Linked DNA regions of Homo sapiens: region 1 is linked to region 2. Evidence: fine-mapped expression QTL. A gene starts in region 2. The other region holds a variant in brackets. All regions are shown on one strand. Distances are between the middles of the regions.

Region 1 (8,986 bases), 22 kb after region 2:
TTGGGAGGCCGAGGCGGGTGGATCATCTGAGGTCAGGAGTTCAAGACCAGCCTGGCCAACATGGTGAAACCACGTCTCTACTAAAAATAAGAAAATTAGCCGGGTGTGGTGGTGTGTGCCTGTAATCACAGCTACACGGGAGGCTGAGGCAGGAGGATCACTTGAACCTGGGAGGTGGAGGTTGCAGTGAGCTGAGATCACACCACTGTACTCCAGCCTGGGTGACAGAGTGAGACCCAGTCTCAAAAAAGAGAGAGAGAGAGAGAGGACTGTTTTAAGCCAGGAAGCCACCCCAAGGGATGCTCATGACATATAGGCAAGACAGCCAACAGCCCACTCAGATTTACCCTGGGTGTGGTAAGTAACAGGGATAATACCCCACATTTCGCATTTCACAGAGGGAACATACAGACCCTAATAAGTAAAGAAACTTCCCTAGACCTCAGAGATAGGCTCATTTTATTTTAAAAATTTAATAGATATGAGATAAAACTAGTATAGTAGAATGGTCATGGCCAATCCACAGCAGTGGGTACATGGTGCTCATTTTAAAATTCTTTCAACTTTTCTGTAGGTTTGAAAACTTTCATAATAAAATATTAGAAAGATTTTAAGTTTAAGTTTATGTTTAGAATAATTAATACATTTATATGCTTCAAAATTCAAAAGGTACAAGAGTTAAACAGTGAAAAGTCTTCCTCTTGCCTCTTCTCAGCCACGCGCTTCCCTCCCCAAAGGCAGCCAATGTTAGCAGCTTCTGCTGATGGCTTTCCTGAGCAGAATATGTGTGTATACAGCAATTCCAAACAGATGCGGTTCTCCCCATTTATAGCATTAGACACTGACATGGTGACAAGGATTTCCTCCACACCAGCTGAATGCTTTGCATGATTATCTCATTTCATTCTCCTAACAACCCTGTAAGGGAGACATCATTATCCCCAGTTTATGGATAAGAAAACTAAAGTTCAGAGGAAACATGAATTATTACAGATCCCATGGATAATAATTGGAAAATCGTTAGGATGTAAACCTAGGTTTTTATTTTATTTTATTTTATTTTATTTTATTTGTAGAAATGGGGTCTTGCTATGTTGCCTAGGCTGGTCTTGAACTCGAGCTCAAGCGATCCTCCCAAAGTGCTGGGATTACAGGCGCCAGCAATCAAGCCTGGCCAGAACATTGATTTTTTTGACCTCAAATCCTGTGCAATGAGCCACCATATCGTCGTACAGGTATGTGGACTTGTACCTTGTCCACAGGGTGTGGGAGTAGAGTCTCATAGATGGAGCAAGAAATGAGAGCTCACACACCACCATGAGAACCAGCGTCTGCTGGTGTTAGAGGCTCCAGCACATCCTAATTTTCCCTGAGCGTCTTTTCCCAGCAATGTCTCTGGAATGGAAGTAGGTACACATGCGTACTTAAATATGTACCTATTTCCATATGGTTACTTAAATATGTACCTATTTCTATTCCAGAGACATTGCTTGGGAAATGTGATAAGTGTCACATCAACTGAATGGGGATAACCAGAAAGTAATGTACCTCCCCCTGCCCTGGCTCTGATGTTGTAGGTCTAGTCCTTTCCCTAGTCCTGGAGGAAATCTTTTTACTCAGGTAATAAAAAGCTTTCCGTGCTGGTGGCCACACATATCTGTCAGTTAGATAACTAGCATGTCCAGTCTTGTTTAATAATCAAAACCCCAAACTCTGTTCAGAGGTAAAGCTTTGCCCCTGGCCTAGCTGGAGCCTGGTGTGAGGGGAACCTGTGGTGGGAAAGGGGGACGTGTCACCACCTTGAGCTTCCAGTGGCAGCCAAAATCCTAGCTGAGTGCAGTCATATGAGTGACCCCAGATGGCACCAGCAGCAGCAAAGCGACTATCCGGCTACCAACCTGAAGAGTCCTTACAGATAATCTACCATTGAAGATTGATGTTTAGGGTGGGTTTTCCATGGTAATAGACCATTGAACTACACCTAACAGTTTCTCTTTAGGGTTGGGGATCATAGTACCCCAAGAGCTCTCTCTAAAGAACAACCTGCATACTTCGACTTCTCTACCTCTGCAATTTTAACCCTTTTATACCTTCCAATGCATGAAAAGCCAAGAGCCATGAAACTGGTTTTTTACCTTCTCCTTTGCAAGTCCAGCATGAGGGGTCTAGAACAGGGCTTAGCAAACTATAGTCTGTGGCCAAATGAGCCATGGCCCACAAAACCTGTTTGCTATCTGGCCCTTTAAGAAAAAAATGTCCCGTTTGAAATATGCAGGCAACAGTGTCTGATGGGCAAGGCTCGTGTCTGGTGCTCATCTGTATCAGTCCGCATGGACTCAGTTGTGCTGCAGTAACAAACAATCACGCAAGTTTCAGGGACTGGAATCTCACTTTGGAATGTGAGAACAGGTGGCAGCTCTTATCATAGACCCTCAGCTAAAACTGAGATGGAAATAATTGCATTATAACAGACCGTTACAGATGTTTGATGAATAGAGCATTCCATGGCCAAATACATTCAAGAAATGCACTGTGGATCACCCCTGTAATCCCAGCCCTTTGGGACGCTGAAGTGGGCAGATTATCTGAGGTCAGGAGTTCAAGACCAGCCTGGTCAACATGGTGAAACCCCATCTGTACTAAAAATACAAAAATTAGCTGGGCATGGTGGCATGAGCCTGTAATCCCAGCTACTCGGGAGGCTGAGGCAGGAGAATCGCTTGTACCCAGGAGGTGGAGGTTGCAGTGAGCCGAGATTGTGCCACTGCACTCTAGCCTGGGTGACCGGGCGAGACTCTGTCTCAAAAAAAAAAAAAAAAAAAAAGAAATACACAATGGAAAAATAAAAGGCAAACAAGATTCTTTCATTGAGCCTTCTCTCCAAGGTGGGAAGAAGAGGCCTGTAACGTCCTATTGTCCTATAGCTCCTGGACCCTTTCAGCTGGAGCATCCCCCGTGACAACTGGGGAACTCCTGTTGCCAGATGCAGGATGGTGGACGTGAGAGAGGCAGCTGGAGCCAGGCAGAGTTTCTCCACCCTGTGTCTTCATCTTAGCCTTTCTGCCCTCTTTCTTCCTTAGAGTTATCTGGCTGTCTGCTCATCTGGTCATAAACCGTTTTGTTCATATTAGGCCATGAGAAATGTGCAGTTCTTGGGTGGGGGGAGATGAGGAGGGAGGCTGGGGATTTTGCTTTTGAAGAATGCAAGGAAAGGACAAAGTTGAATCTAGTGATCTCACTTTCTTTCTCTTTTGTCACCATCAAAGCTGTGATTTGCCACTTAGCCCCCTCGAAACAGTTTCGTGGTTTGCTGGAGTTACTTCTGAGCAGATTTATTTATGATCAGAAGGAATATTTTATACCAGGAGGAAATTAATTCTGCTCAGCCTTCCTGCACATTCCTTTGACATGACAGGCTCCTCTTTTGAGGGCTGTTTTAACCTCTAGCTTCTCCCTTTGATATATTCAGGAGGCCCCAAAAATGCTGAGCCATCATCCTCACTCCTGATGGCCTTGCCATCATTCTGAGAACTAAAAAAGAATTAAATTGCAGTGGAAATGGTCACAGAATGCTCTTTTCTCTTTGGAAAGCTAATGTTAATTTGGAGTGAGATTTATGTAGGAAGCTTAAGGAATCTGTTAAAAGAAACATTGAGTTGATTTTCTAATTGACCACCATGTTGCATTTACATGTGTGACATCTGCAGATGCTCCAATAGTACGACTACACACATAAAGCTTTAGTGATTTGGTGATTGCCAAAAAGGCAGTATTTTTTCTGATTGGCATAATTTCTACCTCCAATTTACTGGAACACTGGGCATGACTGAGACGCCTTTTTAGTGATGTCTGCTGTTCTGCATGTTCAATAAACATAAAATTGAGAGGCTTGGCCATGGTTGTGTATGTGCAGCATCTGTGATCCAAGTGGAATTTAATGGTGGAATTGGGGCTTAACAATGGAATCCTGGGAGTGATATTTGGGCCTCAGGGCCCTTACTCTGCAGAAATGAGTGATGGGGCCTGTATTAGTCCATTTTCACACTGCTGATAAAGACATACCTGAGACTGGACAATTTACAAAAGAAAGAGGTTTATTGGACTCACAGTTCCACATGGCTGGGAGCCCTCAGAATCATGTCAGAAGGTGAAAGGCACATCTCATATGGAGGCAGACAAGAGAAGAGGACTTGTGCAGGGAAACTCCCCTTTACAAAACCATCAGATCTCGTGAGACTTATTCACTATCATGAGAATAGCAGGGGAAAGATGCGACCCCATGATTCAATTATCTCTCACTGGTCTCTCACACAACACATGGGAATGATGGGAGCTGCAATTCAAGATGAGATTTGGATGGGGACACAGCCAAACCATATCAGAGCCTATTCATATGGAGCCGACTCTGTGTGTGTGTGGTGTGTGTGTGTGGGGGGGGGGGGTGGTGTGTGTGTGTGTGTGTGTGGGTGGTGTATGTCTGTGTGTTTGTATGTGCGTGTGGGCAGTGTGTGGGGGCAGTGTGTGTGTGTGTGTCTGTGTATGTGTGTGTGTGTGGTGTATGTATGTGTATGTGTGTGTGTGATGTGTGTGTGGGGGGGTGGTGTGTGTGTATGTGTGTGTCTGTGTGTGTGTGGTGTGTGTGTGTCTGTGTGTGTGTGTGTGAGTAAGGTTGTCAAGTTAGCAACTGGTCAGGCTCCTCCTGGGCTGGTCCCTGCCTGTCTTCAACACCACCTGGGTGGTCCCTGCCTGTCTTCAACACCACCTAGGTGGTCCCTGCCTGTCTTCAACACCACCTGGGTGGCGTGTGTGTCTCACGGCTGTTATGCTGCCTGAGCCTGTGTGTGACTGGAGCAGGAGCTGGCATTTCTCCAGCCCCTGTTGTC[C/T]GCCAGGTGTTTTGTGATGCTTTCTAATTGTTTCTCCTGGGAGCCTCCTCGCAAGCTGGTGCTGGGCTGCACTTTTGGCCAGCCTCGGTGTGCTGGCCAGTTCAACTCAGGAGCCTTCAGCACTGAGGGCCAGCCCCAGTCTGCGGTGTCTGCCCAGGACGGCCAGTCCCTGCCAATCCGGCAGGTCCTCAGAGGCCAGGCTGAGCAGCTGGGGCCTTGCAGCAGGACACAGGGTCACAGCTGGACCCAAGCAGAGAGCCTGCTGGGCCTGAGTGTCCAGGTGTGAGGGAAGGGCTTCCTCCCTCCAGAGAACAGGGATGCAGGTTCCAGCCAGGTAGACCTTCCTGCTTTGTGAGTGTGTCCAGAGCAGGGAGAGTTTCACCCACAAACCCAATATGTGACAGGAGCAGCATAGGGCATACCCACTCTGCTCACTCAAAGGATCCCCAGGAGCTGCTCTGGGGTGCCTGAATTCTCACCATCACAGGCTGGAGTGCAGTGGTGCTATCTCGGCTCATTGCAACCTCCGCCTCCCAGGTTCAAGCTATTCTCCTGCCTCAGCCTCCTGAGTAGCTGGGACTACAGGCATGCACCACCATGCCCTGCTATTTTTTTTCTTTCTTTTTTTTTTTTTTTTTGGTAGAGACGGGGTTTCATCACGTTGGCCAGGCTGGTCTCAAACTCCTGACCTCAGGGGATCCGCCTGCCTCGGCCTCTCAAAGTGCTAGGATTACAGGCATGAGCCACTGCGCCCGGCCCATCAGTTCTTTTTCACCATCAATCCACGTCTGACCTTTCCTGTGCCTAAGCTGTCATAGAGGGTAAATGCAAACCAAACACACTTCAGATGGAAAACACCTCACCCTTCTCCCAATTCTCAAACCTTGACTCACTTCCCATAGCACATGGAGGAGAATGCTAGCATCTTCCCACAACTCGCTCCACCTCTCCTCCCACCCAGCCCTTCCTCCTTCACTGCTAGTTGCCCTGCTGGTTCTAGAACATGCCTTGGAACCTTCTCCCCCAGATACCTACATGGCTGTGTCTAGGACCTCATTCCAGTCTCTACACAAATGTCACCTCATCAGAGGCCTTCCCCGGCCACCATGTCCGAAGAGACACCCAGCCCTACCCTCACTTCTCTCTCTATCTGCTTCCCTTGCTCCGAGGCTCTCTTGCTGCTCAACTGTGGATTATACATTCATTTGTTCCTCATTTCTCTCTGTCACGAGAAAGAAAACCTCAGGTGTTTCCCCACTGCCACAACAGTGCCTGTCAATAATTGAGCCCTCAGTAAATACCTGTAGAATGAAAGGAAGAATCTTTTCAATGGTGGAAGTAACTCAATACACCCATGGTCCTCCAGTGGCGGGACCCTAGTGCTTCTGAGGGAAGGAAGATGCTGCTGTGGCCAGATTCCAGGAGGGAAGGGAGAGCATGACCCCCAGCCCTCAGGACAGATGGGGCGTGGCTGCTCCCACCATGGCTCACTGAAGTGCATCTGATACACCGTGTTTGCCACTCCAAAGTTTAATTTAGCTGATGTCTTGGCTGTGAGCAACAGCTGGTAAATTTAGTTGGGGGATTAAGAAACGTATAAGATGCATAGCTCCTTAAAAGGAGCTGGATGTCAGGGGAAAACGAAAGCCAGGTGCATCCTGAATTTGGCTGTGAAAGGCGGGGCAGCCACCTTCTTGGAGCAGGCCAAGGGGCTGTGTTTGCTGAATCTTCTGAGGGGCGGCATCTCCACATGGAGGTGGCGGAGGGCGAGCCTGGGGACACATCCAGTGGCTGCCATGTCACCTAGCCACCCAGGAAATTCCTTCAACCTGCTGGCAAGGATAGGGACAGCTCTGAAGACATGAGTCTGCCCAGAAACCATAAACAAATAGATTGACAAACATTACTGTAGCAAATTAAAACTTGTGTGAGAGTTAAAAAAAAATGCCATGGACCAAGTTCAAAGCAAACAACAAAATGGCCAAATAATACTTTCAGACAAGTGCTAGAAAAAAGACCAATGCTGTTGATTTACAAATAGCTCATAATCAATAAGAAAAAGATGAACAGTCCAATAGAAAGGAGGGTCCTAAGGCACAGACAGGAGGCCAATAATACAAATGCAAAATACAAAAGGCCAATAAATGTATGAAAATATACTCAGCCTCCTCTGCCATCAGAGAAATACAAACCAAAATCAGAGACTTTTTTAACTTATCAGATGGTCAAAAATGTTTAAGTACAGTTGTATTCAGTGATGGCAATGAATTAAGAAAATGTAAATTTCTATTTTAGGAGGGAAATTTTGAGATTTCCATCCAAATTAAAAATGCACATGTGGCTGGGCATGGTGGCTCACGCCTGTAATCCGAGCACTTTGGGAGGCCAAGGTGGGTGGATCCCTTGAGGTCAGGAGTTCAAGACCAGCCTGGCCAACATGGCGAAACCCCATCTGTACTAAAAATTCAAAAATTAGCCGGGCATAGTAGCAGGTGCCTGTAATCCCAGCTACTTGGGAGGCTGAGGCAGGAGAATTGCTTGAACCTGGGAGGCCGAGGTTGCAGTGAGCTAACACCACTGCACCCACAGTCCAGCCTAGGTGAAAGAGCAAGACTCCATCTAAAAAAAAAAAAACAAAAGAAAAAGCTGCACATGCCCTTTGTTCCAGCAATTCCACCACTAGGAGGTAAGCCTCCAAATATTCTTTTATTTTTAATGTATTATATGACTTTATTATATGAATAAATGTATGAATAGTCTCCCAAATGAATGTTCATTTCAAAATACAAGCACACCTCCTTTGATTGGGTTCTGCTTTGTTGCACTTTGCAGATATTGGATTTTTCACAAATTGAAGTTTTGTGGCAACCTTGCACCCAGGAAGTCTATCGGTGCCATTTTTCCAAGAACGTGTGCTCACTTCATGTCTCCGTGCCACATTTTAGTAATTCTTGCAATATTTTCAGCTTTTTCATTATTATGATATCTGTTATGGTGGTCTGTGATCAGTGATCATTGATGTTACTATTGTAATTGCTTTGGGGCTCCATGAGCCATGACTATGTAAGATGGCAAACTTAATCGATACATGTTGTGTGTGTTCTCACTGCTCCATGGAATGGCCATTCCCTCTCTCTCTCTCTATTCCCTGAGACACAAAGGTATTAAAATTATGCCAGTTAATAAGCCTACAATGGCCTCTAAGTGTTTAAATGAAATGAAAAGTCCTGTCTCTTACTTTAAATCAAAAGCTAGAAATGGTTCAACTTAGTGAGAAAGGTATGCCAAAAGCTGAGATAGGCCAAAAGATGGGCACCAGACAGTTAGATCAGTTGTGAATGCAAAGGAAAAGTTCTTGAAGGAAATTAAAAGTTCTACTCCAGTGAGCGCACGAATGATAAGAAAGTGAAACAACCTTATTGATGATATGGAGAAAGTTTGAGTGGTCTTGATAGAAAGTCAAACCAGCCACAACATTCCCTTAAGCCAGAGCCTGATCCAGAGCAAGGCCCTACTTGTCTTCAATTCTGTGAAGGCTGAGAGAGGTGAGCAAGCTTCAGAAAGAAGCTTGAAGGTAGCAGAGGTTAATGCATGAGGTTTAAGGAAAGAAGCTGTCTCCATAACATAAAAGTGCAAGGTGAAGCAGCAGGTGCTGATGGAGAAGCTGCAGCAAGTTATCCAGAAGATCTGGCTAAGGTCATTGATGAAGGTGGCCACACTAAGTAAGATATTTTCCATGTGGATGAAACAGCCCTCTGTTGGAAGAAGATACCATCTAGGACTTTCATAGCTAGACAGGTGAAGGCAATGCCTGTTTTCAAAGCTTCAAAGGACAGGGTGACTCTATTGTTACGGGCTAATGCAGCTGGTGACTTTAAGTTGAAGCCAGTGCGCATTTACCATTCTGAAAATTCTAGGGCCCTTAAGAATGATGCTAAATCTACTCTGCCTGTGCTCTATAAATGGAAAAATAAAGCCTGGATGCAGTACATCGGTTTACAGCATGGTTTGCTGATCATTTAAACCCACTATTGAGACCTATTGCTCAGAAAAAAAGATTCGCTTGAAAATATTACTGCTTATTGATAATGTACCTGGTTACC
Region 2 (8,986 bases):
CTGGCAAGGGGCAGAGAAGGAGCAGAGCATGGGGGTCTGGGCTTTACACTCAGGCAGCGGATGTTTATGAAGCACCTGCTCTGTGTGGGGTATTGGCTAGATACTGGGGCTAGAAGGATGAATGCAACCCAATCCCTAGTTTTAAGTTTTACATCCACTTATATGTTGGATGTAAGTGGGTAGAACGTGAAGATTCTAGACAGAAGGTACCCTTGCGAAGGGACCTAGTTTTAAAAAAATTAGCTAACAAATACATATATAACATTTACTCTGTGCCAGACACTGTTCTAGGCACTTTACATATTAACACATCTAACCCTTGTAATCACCCTGTAAGAATTATCATTCTATTCAGTTCAGAGATGAGAAAACAGAGGCTCAGAGTAGTTATCAAATTACGCAAGGTCACACAGCTCGAAAGTGGTAGGGCTGGGATTTGAACCCAGATAGCCTGGGGCCCAGAGGCCAAACACCTACACACAGTTTTCTCTGAGACCAGCAGAAAAGCCTATTATGGGAACAAATGGCAGCTTAGTATGTTGCAAACACTCATTCAGGCCTGGTTCTAAATCCCCACTCCACCGCTATGTCCTAGCTCTTTCAACTAGGCTAAGCACCTTCAAAGTCCATTTGCCCACCTGCAAAATGGAGATAATTCCGGAGAAAATCATAAGCTAAGAGAGATAGCAATGTGGGTGTGCTCCATGAATGCCACACAGAGCCAAATGGAGAAAGGAGTGGACGGTGGGCCACTGGTCTCTCACCTGTGCTGACATTGAAGCCTGCAAAGCAAGGCAGGGCCAGGTATTCCCTGTCTGAATTCCCCACTGATTTCTGGTTTACTGTTTTTCCTGGCTCTGCTGCAAGGCTAGAATAGTATATTTGAGTAAAACCCAAACAGGTTTTGAGACTTGGGGTTACAGGACACCAGGACAAGATGCTGAGGAGGACAGGAGATAGGAATTTCCATCCCTGGAATCTGAGGATGTGAGAGGCAGAGGATCCTTGGGGATTAGTCGGCCTCATTTCGTTGGATTAGAGATGGGAGACAGAGGCCCAGCGATCGAGAGACACTGCCCAAGGTCACACAGCCAGTTTGGGCAGAGGTTGGGCCAGTATCCATGCAAAAATGCAGGCAGAGTTCAGGAAAAAAAAATCCCAAATCCTCCTGGATCCCCTACCCAGCAGGAAAAACAGAATCTATTCCTTTTAGGTTTTCAAATTAGGAAAATACACCAGTTTTCCTTTGTCTGGAGTATGTGGCAGAGCTCTCAGACCTAATGGACTGCTTTTTGTCTTCTAATCTGGGGGAGTGAGGGACCCCCATATCATCCCTTCCTTGTGACAGACATAGCTTCAAACTTTTCGCATCCAACACCCCAAGATCCACAATATGCCCAGACCCCAGGTCACGGCTACCCACCGTCAACCCCAATTTTGCCGTCCCCATCTTTGTCTCCAGCAGCCATCAGCATCTTGGTTTCTTTAGCAGACAGGTCTCTGGCATCTGGGGAGAAGCCTTTTAGGATGAATCTGGAGGAGAAAAGGGAGAAAGCCGGTGAGGGAGTCAGGCCGAGGTCGCCTTGCAGGACGCTGGATGGAGGGTGGTCTGGTTTCTGTATGGGGAAAGGGATGGCTGGGACAGGCAGCGAGCAGCAGTCACGCACACGGATGCTCTGGGCCAGGTAGCCTGCTCGGTGGCTGTGCTTTCGTGGGTGAGTATTTAGGAAAGGACAGGCTGTCCTCAGTGAAGGGTTGTCCTCACTTCAGGGAGGGCACCTACATTCGTTAATTTATCCAACAAGTATTCACTAAGTGTCATTTCTGTGTCTGGCGTATGCTGGAAAGTGGGGTCACAGTGGTGATCTTCGGAAGGCACTGGAAAAAATAAGGAGGTCACGGGCTCCGAGAGAGACCACACAGTGTGATGGGCCGTGGAGGAGGGCACTCAGAAGCTGTATCTGCCCACCTGCGGTGAGGGGAGGAGAGGGGAGGCTTCCTGGTGAAGGTGATACCTGGAGGACAGGGGGAAGTCAGCCTCTGTGAGTGTGTGTGTGTGTGTGTGTGTGTGTGTGTGTGTGTGCATAAGTGTGCATGCATGTTGGATGTAAGTGGGTAGAACGTGAAGATTCTAGACAGAAGGTACCCTTGTGAGATGGTTTAGGGGAGAGACAGGATGGGTGGGGAAGTCCCTACTTGAAAGGCCTCTCCCTACACCCACCCCCCGCTTCTCTTTTTGACAAAACTCAAGGCTTTCTTGGCCAGAAAGTGACATAAGGCAACCTGAGTCAGTAGACATGGCCGGGTGGCTGAGGGAATTATGGTGGGAGATGCTTTTGCAGATGGAGGCATGCATTTTCCTAGCCACAGCCTTCTCCTTCTCTGCTTTTCTCCAAGGACCCCTGGACTCTCAGAGGTGGTTCTGCATCCCTGGCTTGCCTAGAAATTGCACCAGCCACACTAGTACCAGAGGGCTGGGGGCTGCAGGAAGGTGGAAAGTGTCTTTTAGACAAATGAAAATCAATGAAATACTCAAGTGAATGCTTTCTGCCCTGCCTATGGTGTTAGGCAGCAAGAAAACTGCCTCTTCATTTGCATTAAATTATTAAGTAGCAACATTCCATTAGCAATATTAAGTGGCTATCATTTAACCTAGTTAGTTGCACTTTCAGCTGAGGGTTTTACTCTTCCGAAGCAATAGCACCAGGAAGCCTTCTCCCCTGGTGCCCTGGGTCGGAGCCCTGCCTTCACGCACGGTTACTTTCTGTGAAGCAGGCAGAGTGAAAGGCAGGTCTGATGGACACTTGGAAGCTAGAGTCCCAGCCCCCACTCCCTCTCGTGCAGCCGTGGGCTGGGCAGCCCCTGCAGGCCTCCGCTTACCCCAGCTCATCCTCCTCGATGAAGCCACTTTTGTCCTTGTCCAGCATGTGAAACACCTTCTTCACATCATCCGCACTCTTTTTCTTCAGGCCGACCATTTGGAAGAACTTTTTGTGGTCGAAGGAGTCGGTAGCTGTGGGGGGAAGAGCAGGGTCAAACAAGGACCAGAAAGGCTGGTAGGGAAGCCTGGGAGAATGGGGGGCATCAAGGCATTTGTTGATGGATTCCCACATGCCAGTCATGGGGAATGAGAGGTACCCACCTCCATTGGAGGGCTGAGGGAGCCCGGGCAAGGGAGGATAACCTGTCCAAGGTCACAAGGCTGGGAGTGGAAGAGGTGTGCTCAAACCCAGACCTCCCTGGCTCTCAAGCCCGCCCCCACGCCCCACCTCCACTGCACCCATTGCTGATGATGGGAGCAGCACCTAAGAACCAAAGGCTTTTGTTCTTCTGAGAACCTTGTGCCCAGGAAGACTTTTGAGTGCCAGCTGGTTGGGAGTGGGCTGGGGAATTGAAGGGGGCATGAACATGGTCCTGGGGTTAGGGGGAGGAGGGTTGACCTTCTTTCTTGGCCACAGACTTTGTTGCCAGAAAATTGACATAGAAAGGACAGGTTTCCCTCAAGGTCATACAGTGGGAGGAGGAGGGGCAAACCCGGAAGTCCTGGCTCTGCGCAGAAATCCACTTCGGAGGCAGTGGGAAGGGGGTGTTAGGAGGCTCCCGAGAAACACCCAGTTAAGTTTCTTCCCACATGGGCTTGAGGTGAAGGGAGAGGGTTATCCCAGGACCCTGGGAGGGTGGCTTCCCAGAGAGGTTCTTGTGCCCAGGGGAGGGGGTGCAAAGCAGAAAGGAAATGGGGGTCCTTTTCTACCTGCAATTTTCTGTATCTTGGGGTCCTGTTTTAGAACACCTGGGGAAGGGTACAATGTTAGATCATGTATTTTGTGTGTGTGTGTGTGTGTGTGTGTGTGTAGGGAATGGCTGTTGAAGTCATGTTCTCTTCCCCTCAGCACAGGGCTAGAGACAAGGAAAGTTGCCCTGTCCACCTCCGACACTAGGCTGGGCAACCCAGTTCTAATACCCCTTCTGCCCAGCTAGGTGACCTTGGGCAAATGTCTTGTCCTCTCCAAGACAGTTCCCTGATTTCCCCATCTGGAGGACAGGGGAGGAGGAAGGCGGGCAGCTTAGCGCTGAAGTCCCGGGCAGCTGGGAGAGGTGAGACTGCCAGTTCCCCTCCCCTGCCCGCCTAAGGAGGCTGGAGGTTTGAGGCACTGAGGATGCCCCGTGCGGGCTTAGGCAGAGCTGTGCGCCGGCTCCAGAAGGTCACCTCGCCCGCAGGTCCGTTGCTGAATCTCAGTAAAGGAACTAGGACAGTCAGGGGGCCAACAAAGGCTACCGCCTGGCGGGAAAAGTCCTGTCCAGAATGAGGGTCCAGGAAAGGGGTCTCTTGGAGAGGAGGATGCCCCCTGCAGTCCCCTCTAAGTGCCTTAAAGAGGACGTCCAGAGAGCTCGTACAAGGACCCTGGAGGTCTCTCCTCCGACCCTGGTCTTCGCCCTTGGTCCCGGACCCTGAGTCCTCCCAGCCACCGGGCCTTCAGCACCCTCAAGTTTCTGTAACTTAGGCGGGGCGCCCTCTTCCCCGCCCGCTCCCCGCGCCAAGCCTCGCCCGGACAGAGTTTGGGAACTGCCAAGGACGCCCCCGCCCCGACCTCGCCGGCGCCCAGCGGGAAGTGTGGGCAGAAGCGCGCTGGGGAGGATCCGCCGGCTGCGGGGCCGGCGGAGTGCAGGGGCGCGGGCGGTGGACGAGGGGAGAGGGATGGGGAGGGGAGCGCGCTTGCTCACCGCTAAAGGCTCCCACCGCCTTCTTGATGTCCTCAGCGTTCAGCAAGTCTGTCATCGACATCCTGCAACTGTTTGAGCGGGCAGAGCAAGTGCGAAAAGATTAAAAAGTGCTTTTCTCATCATTTCTGCTCATATGACCAGCGCTGCAGTGCTGCGCGCCGGGCGCACGCCCGCCGGGCCTGGCATGGCGCCAGGGGCCCGGACTCTGAGCGCAGCGGGAGCGGCTCAGTCCAGCCGCGCCGCTGAGCAGCGCCGGCCGCCGGCAAGAAGGCGCGCGGACCTGCTACCACTCCTGCACCGCCAGGCCAGGGGTCCGCGGGATCCCAGGGGCTGCGGCCAGGGCACGAGGGAAGGGGCCACCTCTGGGATTTAGGGGGCACTGGCGTCACCAGCTGGGTCTGGAAAGTCCACCTGCCGTCAAGGACACGCAGGAGGTGCGCCGTCTCAGATCTGGGAACCTTGGCGGATGTCCTGCCGCGTGGGGGAAGATCCTGAACCTTCAGCGGCCAGCCTGCACCTCAGGACCTCCTAGGCCCTGCTCCCTTTCTCTCTCCACTCCTACCTCAGCCTCTGCTCTGGTCTGTCCTGGATGCAAATTTATGCTGCAAAATCTGAGCGCTGAGGTCCTGAAACCTGACCCACCCGACGCAGGGAGGAGGTGGCAGGGACAGGGACAGGGACAGGCAGGAGCTGCTGGGGCCCACTTCGGGTGCCCCATCCCACATCTGGCCAGGGATGCATATTCTAAAACCTGATTTGATGTTTTACTTTTATTTTTTATTTTTTTGCTGGCTTGATTTTTCGAAGAACACTTCTCAGATCTCTACTAACTACTTGCTTTCCTGGTCTCCTGGGTCCTGGCATCATGGGTCCAGACTCCCCCTACTCCTATAAACCTTTTTTGGGCAGAGTAGGGTGGGAGAGTCCGCTTGGAATTGCTATGCTCCCTCCCAGAAAGCCCCATATGTGTTTGGAAGAAGGGTAGCACCTTCAGACCACACTTTCTAGACAACCTAAGCAGGTGTAGGGGTCTGAACTTCACCTCTGGAAAAATGTCACGGTGCCTATCTGTATGCAGCCAGAGACCCGTTGTGTTCTTCCCCATGGTTCCCAAGGTTTCAAGCTGCAACCAGCTGCTTCTAGAGTGTGTGAGCGCTGGACAGGGAGTCAGGAGGCCTGGGTTCTAGATCCTGGGCTGCACTAAGTCCCAGTGTGACCTTGGGTTGTGACCTTCTCTGGGCTTCTGTCTCCTTCTGATGTGTTGATGACGTCAGTGGTCCCATGTAGTGGGACCTGGGGACTGCAACTTAAGGTATTGGCAGGTAGGCAGGGCCTTGGGCTGTGGTGGCCCTGGGTGGTGGGGACCAGGGAGAGCAGCTGTCCAGCTGCCCAGTAACTCAAGTTCCCTGACATCGCTGTCAACATTGTCTCCTGCAGCTCAGCCCTGGATGGCTGCCCTTCCTGGAAACCTTAGGATACCTCTGCTGGCTCCAGCTGCCCCCTCCCTGTGAGTCAGCTCCTTCAAGCCACAGCCCGCCAGATGGCTTCCAAGGCACCAAGGATGCAGCTCCTGACCTGATGCCTCTCAGCTCCAGGACTTCCCAGGACCCCTCAGCTGCCCTGGACCCTGCTGCTACTGCCGTCACCTCTGCACCTTGTCCCCAGCTGGGCTGCTGACTCAGATATGCCAGGCTCCTATGCTATCATTTCAACTCCCAGGCTCAGCTCACTCCAGGAGCCTAGTTGGAGAATGGATTTCCCCAGCTGAAGGACGCTTCAGCTATACCAGTGGAGAAACGGAGGCACAGAGTCCGTGAATGGTCTAAGGACACATGGTAAAGCAATAGCAGAGCAGGGTACACCCCTGGACTCACTCGTGTGGAGTTCAGTGACTCTCTGGGTGATCCTCCCTGGTGCCTGGGACCCAGCTCTATCAGGTCCCATACATCTCAGCCACACACTGGCTCCTGGTGAGCCCCTAAGCAGCTACCCTGTGGCAAAGGCTGCAGCCTCAACAGGGGCCCACTCTTCTTCCATCTCCTTCCTCCATCTCTCCCTGCTGCTGAGTTCTCCTATCAACTTGACACCCCCTCCGGGACTGAGCCCTCCCAGCCAGAGCATCAATGTCATTAGGTCAGCCCATCAGCCCTGGGTAGTCCTCCTCTGCCCTCTGGGTCCTCTCTGATGGCATCACCAGAGTCCACAGATGTCTGACTCCAGCCCTCTCGTTCTAAGGCTGGGGAATCTGAGGCCCAGCCACGGGGGGCGGTGGGTGGGGGGAGTTTGCCCCAGGCCACACCAGGAGTCTGGGTGGAGAAGCAGGAATGCATGCTCTCAGCCCTACATTCCACAGCTGCCCTGCCTCCAGCACCCCCACCGCACCCCCCTCCCCGGGTCACTACGGACAGGGGAGATGTAGCTCTCCCTTCCAGCTGGCTCATCCTGCTGCATCCCTCTATCCTCCAACCTCGGTAGCTGCCACTCACCTCGGGTGGGGGTGGAGGGCTGGAGCCTGCACTGAAAGGCTGGGCTGGTGGGAAGTCCTGTCGGGAAGTGAGCCTGGAGGTGGGATGGCCACCTATATAGGCTTCTGCTCTGGCTATTTTGGGAGGTGGCACTCCCCGTAGCCCCGGCCCCCTCCCCTTCCGGTGTCAGGTACTCCCCAACCGTGGTGCTGGGTGTCTGTATCACATTCAGCCTCCCTGGGCCCATCAGGCCAAGACTATTAATAACTCTTGGCCCCTGCTTCCCTCCAGCACCCAAAATTGAGGCCCAGGCAGGGCTCGCCTCTTCCATGAAGCCTTCCGTGACCACTGTAGATGGCAGCGATGCTTCCTTCCTCCATATTCTGCCAGGAAAGGAAGAGAAACAGCAAGGAAAAGAATGAAACAAGAACTGTCCTCTGTGCATGGGGCTGAGCCCCATTCCTATGCTGATATGATCTCTCACTACAGCCTTGCCAGGTAGACATAGCTGCTCTCGCACAGATGAGGAAACAGCATAAAGACGTTAGATGTTAAGTGACCTGCTGCTCAAAGCCACGGGCCTGGGGTTGGGAGCGGACTCAGCACTTTTGTGCGAGGATCTAGTGCCTGGTAGAAGGAAATGTTCCGCATATTCTCAGACAAGTCCCTTCCTCTCTCTTTCTCAGTCTTTCCACCTGTAACATGAGCTCAATCAGAGGTAAACTGTGCCCTATAGATGGTCTAGGGCGAGGGGAAGATGGACCCCCTGAAATTGTATGCGTGTGACATTGAGGCACAAAGGCCCAAGCCCTTCATGATTTGCAAAGAGATCTCTGACATTGTCTGTTTTGGATTGGAGAGGACCAGCTGAGGGATGTGTTTTGAGAAGCATGAATGACCAAATGAATTCAATAAATACGTAGTGAATATCTAATCTGACCACCATGAAATGTTCCTCTCCTCATCCCTAACCTGAAAAGAATCTCCAGGGCACGAAGATTGTCAATGGTGGGGTCTAGTTCTTCACAGTGACACGAGGAATCCCAGGCTCCATGCAAAGGCTGTTTGGAAGCTCCATGGATAGAAAGGGCCGAGGGCAGGCTGCATGGGGGAAGCTGGGACTGGGGCCTCCTTGAGGTGTGGTGCTGGGGCCTGAGCTAGGTTGCTGGTGGTGGCAACAGGAAGGAGTGTGCAGATAGGGGAGCACCTCTTGGAGAGAAGCTTCCAGAATTGGGGCTGTGGCATGAACAAGAGGGACAAATCCAAGCTGACCCTAAATATTCAAGGTGGGGTTTGCTGAAGAAGGAAGGTGTTGACTTTGAAGGCAGGGAGTGTAGGGAGGAGGTAGTGCTCAGTCGAAGGGATGATAGAGTAAGTGGTGTTGAATCCTAGGATGTTAGGGCTGGGACAGCCTCCGTGGTGATCGGCTACAAACTTCTACAAATGACATCATGTTATAGATGAAGAAACCAAGGCCAGGGTGACTTACCCAAATCCCCCAGAGAGTAGTGGAAGAGCCAAGAGCTGATGCTGGGTTTAGGGGACCTGAAGGACACCCTGGCGGAGATGTGTCTGAACTCTGGAGTGAGGTCAGGGCTGGACCCTGGGGGCTTTGTCATCAGAGAAGTCAAGGAGTTGATCTCGTCAAGTCGTGGGCATGGCTGAGCTCAGGGAGCCGGGATGCAGGAGAACCTTGAGGATGAACCCTTGAGGAAGATCGCTGGCTGGGGCCTGGGAAAATAATTACACTTGTTTGTTGAACAGTGTGCTGGGTTCTGTGTGCACAGCATCGCACTTTG

The links. PIP is the estimated chance that this variant, and not a neighbour inherited with it, causes the effect. A credible set is the group of variants that fine-mapping cannot tell apart.
Region 1: its variant is the best candidate, but not a certain one, in a credible set for the expression of PVALB in lung (TOPMed, PIP 0.56).

The regions. Positions count from the first base shown.
Region 1 is chr22:36,833,768-36,842,753 of GRCh38, forward strand. No RefSeq gene overlaps it. Among named protein-coding and RNA genes, the nearest start is that of PVALB, 21 kb to the left of the region's middle. The variant C/T (reference allele first, on the strand shown) is at 4,884.
Region 2 is chr22:36,812,223-36,821,208 of GRCh38, forward strand. PVALB (parvalbumin) reads right to left here and starts at 4,813. Exons shown (of 4, transcript NM_001315532.2): 1 at 4,723-4,813; 2 at 2,881-3,013; 3 at 1,424-1,533. The coding sequence starts at 4,783.